2 separate regions of the Homo sapiens genome follow, and region 1 is linked to region 2. Evidence: fine-mapped expression QTL. A gene starts in region 2. The other region holds a variant in brackets. All regions are shown on one strand. Distances are from middle to middle.

Evidence for each region. PIP is the estimated chance that this variant, and not a neighbour inherited with it, causes the effect.
Region 1: its variant is the best candidate, but not a certain one, in a credible set for the expression of RIPOR1 in whole blood (INTERVAL, PIP 0.54).

What each region holds. Positions count from the first base shown.
Region 1 is chr16:67,202,894-67,205,787 of GRCh38, reverse strand. It overlaps ELMO3 (engulfment and cell motility 3), which reads right to left. Exons shown (of 20, transcript NM_024712.5): 16 at 2,784-2,894; 17 at 2,565-2,669; 18 at 2,379-2,461; 19 at 2,205-2,291; 20 at 1,784-2,123. The coding sequence ends at 1,911. Among named protein-coding and RNA genes, the nearest start is that of MIR328, 1.9 kb to the right of the region's middle. The variant C/G (reference allele first, on the strand shown) is at 1,469.
Region 2 is chr16:67,527,565-67,530,458 of GRCh38, reverse strand. RIPOR1 (RHO family interacting cell polarization regulator 1) reads right to left here and starts at 1,630. Exons shown (of 22, transcript NM_024519.4): 1 at 1,545-1,630. LOC100505942 (a long non-coding RNA gene) reads left to right here and starts at 1,714. Exons shown (of 2, transcript NR_104656.1): 1 at 1,714-2,142. RefSeq lists silencers at 24-303, 1,304-1,533, 1,564-1,673.

The DNA of each region.
Region 1 (2,894 bases), 320 kb after region 2:
GTATTGGGGCCAGGCACGGTGGCTCACGCCTGTAATCGCAGCATTTTGGGAGGCCGAGGTGGGCAGATCACCTGAGGTTGGGAGTTCGAGACCAGCCTGACTAACATGGAGAAACCCCTTCTCTACAAAAAATACAAAATTAGCCGGGCGTGGTGGCGCATGCCTGTAATCCCAGCTACTCAGGAGGCTAAGGCAGGAGAATCACTTGAACCCGGGAGGCAGAGGGTATGGTGAGCCAAGATGGTGCCATTGCACTCCAGCCTGAGCAACAAGAGCAAAACTTCATCTCAAAAAAACAAACAAAAAACAAAACAAACAAAAAAGTATTGGAGACAGGTGCGGTGGCTCATGCCTGTAATCCCAGCACTTTGGGAGGCCGAGGTGGGTGGATCACTTGAGGTCAGGAGTTAGAGACCAGCCTGACTAACATGGTGAAACCCTGTCTCTACTAAATACAAAAAATTTAGCCAGGCATGGTGGCGCATGCCTGTAATCCCAGCTACTTGGGAGGCTAAGGCAGGAGAATTGCTTGAACCTGGGAGGCAGAGGTTGCAGTGAGCCAAGATCACACCATTGCACTCCAGCCTGGGCAATAAGAGTGAAACTCCATCTCAAAAAAAAAAAAGAAGAAAAAGAAAAAGAAAAAAAAGATATTGGAGGTAGCACTGGTGAGAGAAGAGGTGAATGGCAGGGGGAAGTCTGAGGGGCAGTGGCTTCAGCCTATCCTGTGAGCTCCACAGACTTATAGGCTCTTCTTTCCTCACGGGCTTGGGGTCTGTGATCACAGCCTCTGCCCCTGTGACCAAACCTCCAGCTGGGCCCAATACTCCTCGATGCTTCTGCCCCCAGGGGCTCTGGCCTGTCTATGGCCCCCACCCTACCCATGGTTCTGAGTTAGATTTTTAATTTGTTTTTTGAGATGGAGTCTCATTCTGTCGCTCAGGCTGGAGTGCAGTGGTGCAATCTCAGCTCGGTGCAACCTCCGCCTCCCGGGTTCAAGCGATTCTCCTGCCTCAGCCTCCCGAATAGCTGGGATTACAGGTGTGCTCGACCACACCCAGCTAATTGTTATATTTTTAGTAGAGACGGGGTTTCACCATATTGCCCAGGCTGGTCTTGAACTCCTGACCTCAGGTGATCGGACTGCCTCAGCCTCCCACAGTGCTGGGATTACAGGCGTGAGCCAAGCCCGGCCCTGAGTTAGGTTTTAATCAGAAACCGGGTCTTCCTGCACAGAAGTGGCTCTTGTTGGAATCAGCCCACATCCTCCTACCAGCCTGGGGATCCTGACCCTGCCCTTCTGCCTCTCTCCCTTCATGCCTCTCACCAGAGAACTCCAAGTCCTACAAAGGACACCAGGCAGGGCCATGCAAGCTTGAGGACTGAGGTCAGATTGTCAGGAGCCTTCTGGAGATGGCTCCCAGACTACGCCCCTGTTAACGCTGTCCAGGAAGGCATCCATTTGGGG[C/G]AGTGCCTCCTACCCTGCCAGTTCTCCTGCAGCAGGCCGGCAGCTCAGCCTCTCCCTTGGCAGGTGCCCCCAGACCACAGGCCAACCCTCCCTGCAGGCCCAGCATGGAGGGAGGCTGAGGACTCACCTTGGAGAAAGGCTGCAGTCCCAGCCTCTCCCCACCCCCTTCAGAACACCAGCCCCTCAACCGTAGCTGTCAAAGTTTGTGGCCTGGCCTGATGCCCCATCTTATCCACCAGCTAAGTTTGAAGGCAGAAGGGGAAGACTGTCACTGTCACAGGCTCAGCCCGCAAGGTACAGAGCTGGCTCAACATATCCCAAGAGCCAAGCAGACTTTATTTCTGCAGCAATCTCTGCTGGTCAGGGTGCCTGCACTCCTCTACCCACTGCCCTTCATGGCTGCTGCAGTGGCCGCAGCTGTGGCCCATGGCCAGCCACACTGTCAAGGTTCAGCGATGCTGCAGTCATAGCAGAAGTTGAAGTTGGTGGGGGGTGGGGGCACAGGGGGTGGCCGCTCGGGGATGGGCACGTTCTCCAGCTCCAGCAGACGCAGCTTGGTCTCCATGGTCAGCAGCTGCTCCAGGTCCAGCCGTGTCTGCTCGCTGCCCATGGGACTGCCCAGCAAGGCACTGAGCCCATCTGTCCACAGGTAGAACTGGGGGTGGCACAGAGCCGTGAGGGTCTGCCCATCTGCCTCCCCTGCCCACCTGCCGACCTCAGCCTGGCGGACACTCACCTCCCGCTTGGAGGGGGCAATGAAGTTGAGGTACGCTTCCTCCTCCCCACGGTCATAGCTGATTGAGAAGGCCAACTCATAGAGGTCCTGGGGAAGCAAGGGAGCGGGGACACTGAGCAGGGGACAGGGTAGGCGGGGGCGGGTGGGAAGGAGCCCCTGGCCCGCTGTACTCACCTTGTTCTGCTTCCCGGAGCCCTTCTCCCGGACATGGGGGCAGTCCTTGCCTGTCAGGAGTGCCCTCATGTCGGCCACAGGGACTGCAGGAAGAAGGCTGGGCTGAGCACTGCAGCCCTGGCAGCCCCGGGGCCCAGGGCGGTCTGGGGAGAGCAGGTATCTGGCCCCCGCCCCTGCCCGCCTTACGTTGCTCGGGCAGACTCTCCAGGGTAGGCGGGCTGGCGCCCTCCTCCATGTCTCCGTACTGCAGCAGCTTGTGGTTGGGGGACAGGCAGCAGAACCACAGCTTATCTGCGTGGAGAAAGGGAAGAGGGCCAGAGTGCTGAGAGGTCCTGACACCAAGCCAGCCGCCCTCTGCCTGCCCTCTGCCTGCCCTCTGCCCCCTGCCCATGCCCATTCAGAGACCCTGGCGCCGCCGGCTGCTGATCTTGCGGAAGAGCGTCCCCTCACAGAGGCGGAGCAAGCGCTGCTGGCGGATCAGGCCCATGAGCTCTGGCTTCAGCTTCTCCCGCAGCT
Region 2 (2,894 bases):
CTTGTCTCCATGGCAACTGCCCCCAAACCCGGCGGCTGACGTCATCTCGCAGCTGCCCAAGCGTATAGGAGGGAGGGGGAGCGGCACAGCCCCGGACCCCCCACCCCGGAACCGGGCGGAGGCTGTCGGGTGGCCTCACTTCCTGCCGGCCCCCTCCCTGGTCAGCTGGTTACATTCCCTGGCCGCGCGCTGGGAGCCAGGCGGCCTCCCCCGGGCCGGGCCTGGCCAGGGCTGAGTCCGAGCGGCGACGCAGAGGGGCCGCCGTGACTCACCCGCGCCCTCCCCGCCCGCTTCTCTCAAGCGGGACCCAGCCCAGAGTCCTGAGTCCTCCCCTCACCCGCACCCAAACCCAGACCCCTGGGGCGGCTCACCTTGCTCCTCTCTCCCGCCGCAGTCACAGGACCCAAGCCGGAGAGGGCGGTGGAAGAAGGAGCTATGCCAGTCCTCCTTGTCCCGCTGGAGTATTTTGTACCTCAGCCCCCAATTATCATTCCTCTCCTCCCTCCAATACCACGGAGGTGGGTGTCGCAGGGGCAAGGACTCAGATCTAATCCTCGCTTCTCCCAAACCAGCTGTGTGACCTTGAGAATACTACTAACCTCTCTGGGCCTGTTTCTGCATCTGCCAGATGGTCATAACCCTCCTCAGATGCTGTGCGTTGGCCGAATGCGGCAGGCCCAGGGCGCGGCCCCGCAGACTGCAGCCAGGGCACAAGTATTGTTACACGAGGCTGCGCACAGTAGGTGCTGGGGCGGCCAGCCTGGACACACGTTAGAACTGGCTGGGGAGGGTCTGTAGGGGAGGCCGGACTCAGGGCTCACCCTGGAGAGGAGGACAAAGGGTGCTGAATCTGGACTGAATCCGACCTCTAGCCCTGGTGAGCAGCCCCTTGCCCAAACCAGTTCTGCAGAGAGCCCAGGCCCGGCTGTTGCAGGAACCTTGCGCCAACCTCCATTTCCAGGGAAAAGCTCCGTTCCCCGACAAGGACGATCCTCTCCGGCTTCGGCTACGCCAGGTTTGGGCGGAGAGCCCGGCTCCAGCCCAGGCTCGGTCACCTCGGGGCCGGCCACAAAGCCGCTTAGGCCGGCCCCTAGAGCTAGGAGGATTAGCTCAGCTCCTAGGCCGGCCCGCACCCTTCGTCGCCCCCTCCCCATTTCCAGCCCAGCCTCCCCTGCGGCGAAGGCAGCAAGGGCTCCCAGGGAGCGCGCGTGCCAGGGCCCAGGCTGGCGCCTTGAGCCCGCTCTCTGGCCTGGCCCATCCCAGCGCCCCGGGGCACCGGCCGCCAGGGCCTTGCCGTGGGAGGAAGGCAGCAGCGCCAGGCTCTGCAGGCCCGGAGGCGGCGGCTTTTGTGGGAGAAGCTGCGTTCTCCACGCCCGGGGGGAGGGGAGGAAAGACAAGGCGCGGCCGGGGTCCGGGAGATGGGGTGAGGCGGGACAGAGCCGCAGATCCCGGACCCACCGGGCGGCGCCGGCGGGGGGGCACCAGAACCTCCGCGCCTGCTCCCCGCCCGGCCTGCAGCCCCGGAAACGGCGCGGGACACTCACATGGCTGCGCTGGGCTGCGCGGACCTCGCGCTGTCCTTGCGCTCGGAGGTGCCCGGCCTGGTCGCGCCGCAGCTGCCGCTGTCGCCGCCGCAGGCGCCGGCCCCTCCCTCCGCCCGCCGCCCCGCCGCCCCTCCCCTGGCCCGCCGGGCCCCACCCCCTGCGCTCCCGCGGCTCCCGCACCCCTAGAGGCGCCCACGGCTCGCTCCGCCCTCTCGGATAACGGGGCAGGCCGGTGGCCCACGCAGCCCACCAGCTTGCAGGGAGGGCAGACCCTGGGGGATGTGAGGGAGGCTTTCTCACGCAGACCCTAAAACGGTGAGCGCCAGGGAGCCCCGCCTGCTTGTCCCCTCCCCAGATCCCTCGGGCTCTGGAGACCTTGCGGGCCCCCTGTCCGTGACCACCTGAAACAGGTCCTGGAGCTGCTACTGCTGGCTTAGGCTGGTTGGTGGAAAGGATCCAGGGCTGTTGTGAAGGCCTTGGGGAGTCCAGAAGCCGCCTGGCACCTTCTGGGTCCAGACGCTGCCCTTCAGCCCTGCCATTTCAGCCAGCCTCAGCGTCGCTGTAGAGGCAGGCCGCCCTTTCTGCCACTGTCTGGCTGGTAAGTCCAGGCTCATAGCCGGGTCATGCATTCCCCACTCATTGGGTACTGGTTTTCGGGCAGTCTTGGGGTGGGGACGCTGGCAGGGTCCGGGTACAGGGCCATGTGTTGGGCAACCCAGTCCTTTCCAAAGCCGGGGCTAGAATGCTGGCCCTCCACACAGTCGGTAAAGGTGGGGCTGAGAGTCGACCCCATGTTGGGGTCAAAGGGCCAGTTCCACTCCCCCGCTCCTCCCATCAATCAGACACCCCTGGCCCTTCCAACCTGGACACCCCTGAGGCTTCTCCAGGCCTTGCACTCCCGCAGCCCTCATGTATGTCAGACCTACCCAGGAATGGTTTCAGGGACAGTAAGAGGTCCCTGAATATCTGTACCCCGCCCCCACCAGTCCTGAGGGCTGTTTTTTTGTGTGTTTTGCTTGTTTGCTTGGTTTTGTTTGGTCGGGTTTTTTTTTTTTTTTTTTGAGACAGAGTGTCACTGTCGCCCAGGCTGGAATGCAGTGCAAGCTCCACCTCCCAGGTTCATGCCATTCTCCTGCCTCAGCCTCCCGAGTAGCTGGGACTACAGGCGCCCACACCACGCCCGGCTAATTTTTTGTATTTTTGGTAGAGATGGGGTTTCACCATGTTAGCCAGGATGGTCTCGATCTCCTGACCTCGTGATCTGCCCGCCTTGGCCTCCCAAAGTGCTGGGATTACAGGCATGAGCCACCGCGCCCAGCCTGTTTGGTCGGTTTTTTAGAGATGGGCTTT